Homo sapiens: one gene and its partners. The protein of the gene in region 2 interacts with the protein of the main gene of each other region in a pairwise test. Each region holds a gene or a part of one and is shown on either strand. Other genes may lie near its edges. The genes, in order: COMT, DCLRE1B and ELAVL4.

Region 1 (3,752 bases), on a different chromosome or scaffold from region 2:
GCCTCCGCCTCCCAGGCTCAAACGATCTTTTCACCTCAGCCTCCCAAGTAGCTGGAACTATAGGCCCATGCCACCACGCCGGGCTAATTTTTAAATTTTTTGTAGAGATGGGGTCTTTATGTTGCCCAGGCTTGTTTCAAACTCCTGGCCTCAAGTGATCCTCCTCGGCCTCCAAAAGTGCTGGGATTACAGACATGAGCCACTGTGCCTGGCCTGTTATTTTTGTTTCCTCATTAAATGCTTGACTGCTTGCATCATCCAGCAAAAATCCTTTGCTACCAAGTCTCAACAGATGGTCCCGCTGGTAGTTTATGAACACAACACAGAACAGAAAATGGACGGGGACTGTTGAGAGGAAAGAAGCAGGTCTCTGCTCTTCTTGCACAGGGGGAGTGCTGACAAAGACCCTCCCTCCCCACACTCCAGCCAGGCTCCTTAGAGTCCCCTTCTCCACTGGGCCTCACCCTGGCCTATCTAGGCTGGAACGAACACTAACATAGCTCCTAACAGCTCAAGGCCACATTCCCAGAACGATCCTAGCCCCCTCTAAAGTGCCTGCCTGAGAAGTTCAAGGCTGCCACAAGAATTTCCTGTGTGTTCCAGCCAACACCTGAGGATGGGGCCCCTGTCTCCCAGTCTCTGTGGGAGGTTGGGGGCCTGACTTCGGTAAGCCCCAGTGGCAAACCCAGATCAGTTGGTTTCACAGGGGCCAACCCTCCCTTCCCAGTTTTGGTGATTTTCTGTTTCCCTAACTCTACTGAGTCCCCACCCCTTCCCACTCCCTCACTCTCCCTTTAAACTCCAGGCACATCTAGACAAATCAGCATGGAGCCAGCTTTTTCTCATGTTGTCAGTAGTTACCAAGTAAAATCTGTTTTTTCTGCATTAACTAGTGTCTCACTGGGCTCTGCAGGGCAGCTCCTACGGTCCCTCAGGCTTGGAGGGTCACTTTAAACAATAAAAAGCAACAGGACACAAAAATCCCTGGCTGGAAAAATCCAAAAAGCAGGTCTGTTAGCAGGGCAGGCCCGGAGTGACTTCCCCTTTCTCTAACATTCCCACGTGGTCCTGCACACCACACATCCCCCCGACCCTGGGGAGTCCTGGGCCCCTTCCTGGTGGAGCAGCCTCTCTCTTGCAGGGAAAGGCCCTGGGGTACCCCAAGGCCTCCAACAGGGAGCCTGTTGGAGAAGTCACCAAGGCCCTCTGAGTCTGGGGCTCCACAGACCCTCCCCCAGGCCTCCTGCAACTCTCCAGCTCTGAGAGTCTGATCCCAGCCCAAGGACCAAGTGGGACCCTCCCCTGTGACTCTACCACACCCTCACCAGGTCAAGCCCTACTCCAGGGAGAGGCTTATCCTCCTGGTCTGGACCCCCAACCCAGTCTTGAAGCGGGATCTCTCACCGCTATCTGGAGCCCCTCATCACAGCACAGATCTTCAACCTCAGCTTTCCACAAGGAGTCTGGGGACCCCACCCCGGTCCAAAGATCCCCACCCAAGGTCCGAATTCCCCAGTTCCCATCCAGATTCCCCACCCCAAGTCCGGAGACTCCCACCCAACGTCAGATCACTTCACAGCGGTCCGAATTCCCCACACCCTATCCCAGTGTTCCACCCTAGGTCTGAAGGCCCCCGCCCCGAATCCGGCCGCATTCGGCCCCGGTCTAGCCAGCGCTCTCACCTCTCCCGCGACGGCCCGCCCGGGACTGGACCCGCCCCGGTCCGGCGCAGGCAGCGCGGCGGGCAGCCCTAGCTGCCCCAGAAGCCCCACGACGATGGCGGCAATGGCGGTGGCGCTGCGGGGATTAGGAGGGCGCTTCCGGTGGCGGACGCAGGCCGTGGCGGGCGGGGTGCGGGGCGCGGCGCGGGGCGCAGCAGGTAGGATGGGGTCGGGGCGTCCCCGCGGTAGGTGTCCGCGCGGCCGGGGTGTCCTCGTGAGGGTGTCCGCGCGGCGGTGGCCAGGGTGTCCCCGTGGGGGTGCCCACGCGGGGGTGTCCACATACCGGCCTCTTGGTCTAGTCTTGCTCAGGAGTCCGGGCTGCTTCTAGCCACAAGTAGCCCCCTTCCCAGGTGGGGAAACTGGGGCTGGGTGCCTTGTCTAAGGTCCTGCTGTGCTGACTGCACCTGTGGTCTCCCAGAGCTGGTATCCCAGTAACAACTACAGTTCTGAAGATGATGATATCCCACCTCCCGAGGTCACCAGGCACCGGCCCCACTGGCCAGACTTCCCAACTTCTCCCCAGACCCCTAGACTCTAGAGGTTAGAGGCTGCACAGAGCAATGGGAGGATACACACTCGTCCTCCTGGAGCCCCTGAAGAACAGTTAACTAAATCAGGACAATAATCATAACTGAGCACTCGAAGCAGAGGCTGGGTGTCTGGTCACTCAGGACAGTTCAAGCCTCATCCTGTAGGACAGACTCCCCTAGATCCGACCAGAGCGCCACCATATCTGTTATGTGTGGCCAGTTTCATTCCATGCACGACAACATGGTCCCCCACCATGCAGGGGGCCCCTCGACCCAGCCCCCTGGATGCTTGTGACAGCGAGCAGCTCTCCCCACAGGCAGTGAGTGTAGAGGGGTGTAAGGACGGGGTCAGGGCTCCTTCCCAGGGATGGCGGCTATGGGAGGCATGGTGGCTGGCCCTCTGCCCGCGGTGGACTCGGGAGGGAGGGCTGACTGTGTGTGTGAATGGGCAGAGTTGGTGCTATGGAGGTTTTGGGGGTCTCCAGGACGGAGGGTGGCCCAACAGAGTTCTGGGAGGCAGTCACCACCTCGTGGCCTTGCTGAGACCTGGAACCCTCAGCCAGGGCACTCCATCTTTCAAAGCTTCTTGGCTGCATGCGTCAGGTGGGCAAGCTCAGGAAGGTTAAATGCACCCGTGCTGGCGGAGTCCCATAAAAGGGGATTCGGCATCAAAAGGAGGAAAAAGGTTCAAAGGGCATTTATCATGGGGTTCAGAATCACGGATGTGAGGGGCGGTAGTGGGGACAACAGACAGAAAAGCTTCCCCTTCCCATACTCACAGTCCAGACACGGCAATAGCCAAATTCCAAATTTCTAGGTATTCTGGACTCAGAATGGGGAATATCATACGAGACTTAGGGGGATAATGCCCTTATCTTCCTATTTTAAGGGAAAGAACAAACTGAACCTTCTATGCAAAATAGGATGATGATCCTGGTCCTCCCAGTAAGAAATAAAATAAGTAGTCTCCAGGCATTCCTTTCCGCCAGAGGAGCAACTGTTTTTTAAATAGCCCTTTCGTGCCCAGTCTGTTACTAAACCATATGAGTTGTTTTTTTGGGGTTTTTTTTTTTTTTTTTTTTTTGAGACAGTGTCTTGCTCTGTCGCCCAAGCTGGAGTACAGTGGTGCGATCTCAGCTCACTGCAAGCTCCGCCTCCCGGGTTCACGCCATTCTCCTGCCTCAGCCTCCCGAGTAGCTGGGACTACAGGCATCTGCCACCACGCCTGGCTAATTTTTTTTGTATTTTTAGTAGAGACGGGATTTCACTGTATTAGCCAGGATGGTCTCAATCTCCTGACCTCATGATCCACCTGCCTTGGCCTCCCAAAGTGCTGGGATTACAGGCATGAGCCACTGCGCCCAGCCGAGTCATTTTTTAATACTACTGCATGTGAGTTAACACAATCATTCCCAAATTGAAGTTTTAGATGGGCCCTCAAAATTTTTAGGATATGGTTTTCCTACAGGTTTATATTGAAAGTATGGGGTATCTCCTATTA
Region 2 (3,752 bases):
TTTAAGGATTCTCACATCTTTCAGATCTTTGTGCAGTTCTCACTTTCTCCTACACTGACCACCTTATTTAAAATTGCAACCTGGCTAGGTGTGGTGGTTCATGCCTATAATCCCAGCACTTTGGGAGGCCAAGATGGGAGGGTCATTTGAGCCCAGGCGTTTGAGACCAGCTTGGGCAACATGGCAAGACCCTGTCTCTACAAAAAATTTAAAAATCAGTTGGGCACGATGGTGCGTGCCTGTGGTCCCAGCTACACAGGGGACTGAGACAGGAGGATTGCCTGGGTCCAGTAGGAGGTCAAGGTTGCAGTGAGCCATGTAAGTGCCATTGCACTCCAGCCTGGATGACAGAGCAAGACCCTGTCTCAATAAATGAATGAATGAATGAAATAAGTAAAACTGCAACCTGCCCACCATCCCCATTCCCAACTCCTGATCATCCATACCAATTCATTTTTTTCATTTTTTTATAGCACTCATATACTATATATATTTTTAAATATGCTATTGCTTACTTGTTGTCTATCATGCACTTCCTCTGGCCCATGCACATACGCGTGCACACACACACACACACAAGCATAAACTCCTTAAGAGCATCACTGGAAATGGGAAGAGACTTTGTGTGTTTGTGGAACAGAGAAGCAGCAGTCAGTATGACAGGCACACAGTGGGCAAGGAGGCTGAAAAGGCAAGAGGGGCTGAAGTGCTGTTAAGCCATTTTGGACTTGATCCTAAACCCAACCAAGAGCTATTGAAGGATTTTAAGTAGAAGAGGGACAATATGCACTCATCACCTTGCAATATATTCTATAATTTATGTATTTATTGGACTTTTTATTGTCTGATTCCCCCTGCTAGAATGTGAATTCCACTATGGCAGTCTCTGTTTTATTATGGGTGTATCACAAATGCCTACACTAATGCCTGACACAGAAGCATTCAATATGAATGAATGAAATTTATCAGAACATAGATATTTAAGTGAGCGTTGTGCTTTAAATTAAGTATACTGAAAAAACAGGTTTGTGCTTGTTGTACTGATTATAAATAGTATAAAACATTGTTGAGGACTCTTTCTTGGAGTTGCCATTTGGAATAGTTTATGAAAATACATTTTTGTTTTATAAAATAAATAAATGTAATAGATTTGGTTCTAAATTACTTTTTTGGTTGTTTCCAAATTTGTGAGTCTACAAAAGGACAAAGACTTGCCACCATTATAAATATTTGAAAAGGACATGTCTCAACTCTGAAAGGAGTTTCAAAATGAGACTAAACAAAGGCATTGAAAAAATTATATAACTTCCAGGGTGACTACCAAATCGATTGAGAAATATCCTCTACTCTCAGGATTGCTTAGCTACTTATAAAGACCTAACCATTCTTAATATTTTAATGCAGAATTTTCTCAAAAAAGCAAAGCTGGCTAGGAGGATGCTATAGTAAGCCTTAATTAATTTTGCAAATATGTAATAAGCCTCTACCCACTAAGTACCAAGTATCCAATAGGCAGTGGGGATATAAAGATGAATAAAATATAGTCTCTGACTTGGAGGGCTCACAGTCTGGTAGGGAAGGACCTGTGGGGAGGTGGAAGTGGGAATATATATAGAGAGAAGAAAAATCCGCTCCATTTGTGCCCAAGGAGTGAGATTTTGAACCATAATCAGGAATAAAGTGGATATAAATAATATATACTTCTTTTTATGGCGTTCACAATCTGGTTGTGGATTTGAAACTTCTTCAGAAAAAGTCTGAGAACAGCTATTAAACAACATCTCCCATATCTGTTACCATAACCATTTCCCAAATTAATGTCTCCATTTCTTTCTCTGTAAGTACTATTTGGGCCCTTCAATTGAAACTTCCACTCCAGCTTCTTCTCATCCTGGCAGTCAAATAATATTATTACCATATTTTTCTTTTTAAAGCCCTGCTCTGAGCATATTATTCTTATGATTAGAATTAGCCATTTTCCTGCTTCACACTCAGTGGCTCCCCTTCACTTACACAATGAAGTCCAAGCTTCTTAGCGGTACATATAAGACGCTCTATTATATGGCCCTTGCTTGCCTCTCTGGTATCATTTCTTATCAATTCCTTTTTTACTTTAGTAACAGCAAACTGACCCCTCTTAAAATGTTTTCCACTATACCCTTTCTACCCTTTCCTTGCCAGGTTAACCTTGCCCATCCTTTAAGATTTAGCCTAACGTTCCCTAACTCCATCACCTGTTAGATACAATACTGTATACTTTTTTTGTTTTTTTTTAAGAGACAGGGTCTCACTCTGTTGCCCAGGCTGGAGGGTAGTGGCATGATCACAGCTCACTGCAGCCTGGACCTCCCGGACTCAAGTGATCCTCCCGCGTCAGCTTCCTGTGTACCAGGAACTATAGGCGTGCACCAACATGCTTATTTGTTTATTTTTGTAGAGACAGGGTCTTGCCAGGTTGCCCAGGTTGGTCTTGAACTCCTGGGCTCAAGCAATCCTCCTGCCTCAGCCTCCTAAAATTGTAGGCTTACAGGTGTGAGCCACAGTGCCCGGCCTGTACACATATCTTTAACGTTGCTCTTAATTGTGGTTTTTCTGGGTCTCCTTGTAGATAGTACTTCTTGAGGACTGACAGTTTTCTTTATTAGTTTTCATGGTGCCTGAAACTTGCTAGATGCTCTCTTTTGTTGAACTAAATGAATGAGTGGATTCTGTGTCATTCCCTTTCATATGTCTTAGCTCAAATGCCACCTCTTCCTTGATATTCTCCCTGGATTTCTCCATGAATTGTATCTATTTTTGTTAAACATTTTGTTGATTTATTAGGATTTTCCAATAGCTTAATTTTCTTCCTTCTCTTACTTTCCCCAATACATTGAACATTATTTAGGACTCTACAGCCTGGGAAAGGAATCACTGCTGGAGCAGCTGGCCCTGGAGTTTCAGACCTGGGTGGTATTGAGTCCTCGGCGCCTGGAGTTGGTACAGCTACTGGGCCTGGCAGATGTGTTCACAGTGGAGGAGAAGGCTGGCCGCATCCATGCAGTAGACCATATGGAGATCTGCCATTCCAACATGCTGCGTTGGAACCAGACCCACCCTACGATTGCTATCCTTCCCACAAGCCGAAAAATCCACAGCTCCCACCCTGATATCCACGTCATCCCTTACTCTGACCATTCCTCTTACTCCGAGCTTCGTGCCTTTGTCGCAGCACTGAAGCCTTGCCAGGTGGTGCCCATTGTAAGTCGGCGGCCCTGTGGAGGCTTTCAGGACAGTCTGAGCCCCAGGATCTCCGTGCCCCTGATTCCGGACTCTGTACAGCAATACATGAGTTCTTCCTCTAGAAAACCAAGCCTTCTCTGGCTGTTAGAAAGGAGGCTAAAGAGGCCGAGAACCCAAGGTGTTGTGTTTGAATCCCCTGAGGAAAGTGCTGATCAATCTCAAGCTGACAGAGACTCAAAGAAGGCCAAGAAAGAGAAACTTTCTCCCTGGCCTGCGGACCTTGAAAAGCAGCCTTCCCACCATCCTTTGCGGATCAAGAAGCAGTTGTTCCCAGATCTCTATAGCAAAGAATGGAACAAGGCAGTGCCTTTCTGTGAGTCTCAAAAGAGGGTGACTATGTTGACGGCCCCACTGGGATTTTCAGTGCACTTAAGGTCTACAGATGAGGAGTTTATTTCTCAAAAAACCAGGGAGGAAATTGGTTTAGGGTCCCCCTTGGTACCCATGGGAGATGATGATGGAGGTCCAGA
Region 3 (3,752 bases), about 64 Mb from region 2:
AAGCCTTCCCTCTTGCTTTTGTTGTATATTTTGCAGAAAAGAGTGGTGGGAGGGGTGAGGTTAATGCATTGAGTGTGAGTAATTAGTCATTCAAACCATCGACATTTACGATGACAGGATTTGAGTGCCTACGTTATTGTGCACCGCTCTAATAGTTTATCCCTGAAATTTTCTGCCTGTATAATGTTTCTTAAAATATATCACAGAAACATAAAAGATTTAATGTAGTGCTTTGTACATCCATTAGAGTTCGAAGTCAACTGAACCTCCTCAATGATCTATCCTGGATGCTGACTGTAATTCTGTTCTTAATTGCTATTCAAATGAGGAAAGGAGGGCAAGTCAGGGGCTTGGAACCTGGTCAGCTGCAAAGTTGGCTGTGAGACCCACACAGAATGTTTCATTAAAGTACATATGCACACTTGAGTAACTGATATATTTATTTGCAATGAAAATTGTGCTGTTAGAATATCAAAGGCGTTAGCCTGAGGAAGCAAGTGTTCTGATTTTGCCCAGCCAGCCTCTGTACTTACTGGAGGATGTGCTTTCTACCAACACACATCTTTTCTACTCCTGTTCTGTCCCTCTGTTTCCCAAGCAGAGAGAACAGGTGTCCTGTCTTTGAGGTCTATCATGTAACCTTAAAATGCTGTAGTTTCATATTCGTGCATTTAATATCTTTACATCTTGGCAACTTCTCTTATTTTCCAGGTAATGTTTTAAAATCCTCTTGTTTCATTCACATGTCAGATTTGATTCTGATGTTTTACATTTCTGATTTTTTTTTTCAGCCTGTGTTGCATCCTAAGATGCATCATTAAGACCTGTGAGGGGTCTTATTATAGGATGTATATTAACACATTTGCAAATGTTTCTCAGCTTTCAGACAGCACACTTTTATTGAGAAAACTCTCTTTGTATGTGTCCATTTGTGTGTTTTCATCAGTTCCTTCTGGATACACAAAAGAATAACTGTGTAGTGTAGATGCAGAGCAAAGAGAGCTCCATCTACATTGGATGAGAATGACTTGACCTAATTTATAGATGTGGTCAGCTAAAGTAGCTCAGTAGTGAGCATTGTATCTCATGGCTCCTTTTAGAAGCTAGTTGGGACCAGTTGGGCTGTCTAATCTACAGACAGGACTCACCTCCTGGAGTCAACATAGATTAGGAAATCCACATAGAATGCAAGGAAGGCCACAAAGCTGATGCGGGGACTGAAATTACTTTGCTGCAGCCTTGTTACTTCACAGGCCTTCCTGGAGGAGGTGGACCTGTGAGATGTTCACATGGACAAGTGCTGGCTTTCACCACGTGTCTGAAAACGAAAGATGAACCTGACTATCAGGTGACCTTTATGAGTTTTGGTCCCACAGAATCTCAACATGAAATTCTTCCACATACTCCATCACTAGCACCAAATAAGCTGCCTTGGTGTGGGATATTTTCTAGGTGTTTGTTGGGGAGCTGAAAGAAGGGTAACCTGAAAAAGGTAGAAAACAGAGAAGAGTTTCTAAAGATTGTGGGCCTGGGGGGTTTTTGCCATTAAATCGAATGTAGTAGTCCGGCCTCCTGAATGGATAAATTCTGATTTTCATGTTCATTATCGAGTTGGCAGTGCTTCTTATGTTTGTTGCCTGGACACCTGACTCAGTGAAGCAGTGAGACAACACAGCAAATGGAGGCACTGCAAAGACCCAGAAGGCCCCACAGCTTGGCAGAGCTGAAACCTGCCTCCTAGCCAGGAGTTGTGCTGATGCTCTGTAATGCCATCCCTTTAGCATGCCTCCTTCCCTGGGGACCATCTCCCTGATTCTTTTCCTGGACCCTTGCCTCGAAGGCAAAGTGGCTGAATAGGCTTTGCTGGGTACAACTTCTATCAGTCCTGAGGGGAGCTTGATTTAAGATTCTTCTCAGAAGCTTTTTGCTTTCTCCTTGCTGTCTGGACCAGCCTTCTAGAATCCTAAAGTTGACCTGAAGCCAAGAAGAAAATTCTGGTGATGGGAGAAGTGGAGCCACTTAAATTACTTACATGATGGTAAAGAATCTTAGATGCTCCCCATCTTTCTTAGTCTGCTTTATTTCCTTGGCTCCTCTTGAGCCATGTTTTCCTTTTTGTTTCATTTATCATTTGTGACCATCAGAAGATGAAAGAATTAGAATAACACTCACCTACGTGGGGCATGATGAGGAATAATAGTTATGATGCCTCTGGGCCCTTTGTATTTTAGACATTTAATGTACATTATCTCTCATCCTGAAGATAACCCTGCGTGGCAAGCTTTTTATTCCAGTTTTGCTGAAGAGGAAGCTGAGGCTCAGAGTATTGAAGTAACCTGCCTCAGATCACACAGCTAATAAGTGGTAAAACTAAGTTTTTTGTTTTTTTGTTTTTTGAGACGGAGTTTCACTCCTGTTGCCCAGGCTAGAGTGCAGTGGTGCAATCTTGGCTCACTGTACCCTCTACCTCCCAGGTTCAAGTGATTCTCCTGCCTCAGCCTCCCGAGTAGCTGGGATTACAGGTGTGCACCACCACACACACACAGCTAATTTTGTATTTTCAATAGAGACTGGGTTTCTCCATGTTGGTCAGGCTGGTCTTGAACTCCTGACCTCAGGTGATCTGCCCACCTCGGCCTCCCAAAGTGTTGGGATTACAGGTGTGAGCCACCGCACCTGGCCTAGAACTCAGATTTTAAATCACCTGTTGTCTTGACTCAAACACTCATTCCATTTTTACTATACCACTCTGCTTCAGATGAGAAAATAAACAAAAACAAAAACAAAAAATAGTCTCTGAACATTGATGAGGATGTGGAGCAACTGGAACTTTCATACTCTGCTGGTGGGAATATAAATGGATACAGCCACTTTGAAATACTGTTGGCAGTATCTACTGAAGCTAAATATACATACACCCTATGATCCCAAAAACAGAATCCTAGGACTATCCCCAATAGAAATATGTACATTTTTGTACCAAAATGTTGTACATAACGCTCATAGCAGCATTATCTATAGTAGTTCAAAATTAGAAACAATCCAAATGTTCATCAACAGATAAATAAAATGTAATATTTCCACACAATGGAAATTGCTATAGCAGTGGGAAGAACAATGCATTGTTACATGTAACAGAGCAGATGACACTCCATACATGTGTGAAAAGGCACAAAAGAGTATGTGTTGTATGAGTCCATGTATATAAAGGTAAAAAAATAGGTAAAACAAATCTGTGGACTAGAATTCAGAATAGTGGTTACCTTTGAGGGGTGAGGTAAATGACAGGGATGGAGAACCTGAGAAAGGCATTTGGGGTGCCAGTCATGTTCTGTATTGTGATCTGAAAGGTAATTACCCAGTTGTGAATTGTGTTCACTTTGTAAACATTCTTTGTGTTGTACCCTTAAGATTTATACACTTTATTACATGTATGTTATAGTAAATGAAAATGCTTCCCCCCTAAATCCTCTGAGCAGGCAAATGGTAATAATAATGGAAGCTACTAGTTATCAGATGTCTGCTATGCCTTGGTTTCCTCATCTATAAGACATAGAGAATATTAGAATATGCTTCATTGCCTTCTTGTGAGGAGACAGTGAGAGAAGTCACATTGGATGATTGGCAGAGTAACTAATAAACATCAGTGATTGTGGTTATGTGCCCACCACTGTTCTGGTGCTTTACATAAGTCATATCACTGGATCGGTTCTTACCGCTTTGCCATACGGTGGCATTGTTCCCATTTTTCA

What was found.
Region 1: the proteins of DCLRE1B (region 2) and COMT interact in binary tests that used the Homo sapiens proteins (3 or more experiments, as listed by UniProt).
Region 3: the proteins of DCLRE1B (region 2) and ELAVL4 interact in binary tests that used the Homo sapiens proteins (3 or more experiments, as listed by UniProt).

Annotation. Positions count from the first base shown.
Region 1 is NC_000022.11:19,939,828-19,943,579, reverse strand, and holds the start of COMT (catechol O-methyltransferase), read right to left. Parts: upstream 1,777-3,752; 5' UTR 1,683-1,776; intron 1-1,682. Other genes in the region: TXNRD2 (thioredoxin reductase 2, mitochondrial isoform 5 precursor), read left to right, coding at 1,777-1,879. UniProt on the Homo sapiens protein: Catalyzes the O-methylation, and thereby the inactivation, of catecholamine neurotransmitters and catechol hormones. Also shortens the biological half-lives of certain neuroactive drugs, like L-DOPA, alpha-methyl DOPA and isoproterenol.
Region 2 is NC_000001.11:113,908,244-113,911,995, forward strand, and holds part of DCLRE1B (5' exonuclease Apollo), read left to right. Parts: intron 1-2,887; coding exon 2,888-3,752.
Region 3 is NC_000001.11:50,139,821-50,143,572, forward strand, and holds part of ELAVL4 (ELAV-like protein 4), read left to right. Parts: intron 1-1,951; exon of another isoform or gene 1,952-2,032; coding exon of another isoform or gene 2,033-2,038; intron 2,039-3,752. UniProt on the Homo sapiens protein: RNA-binding protein that is involved in the post-transcriptional regulation of mRNAs. Plays a role in the regulation of mRNA stability, alternative splicing and translation.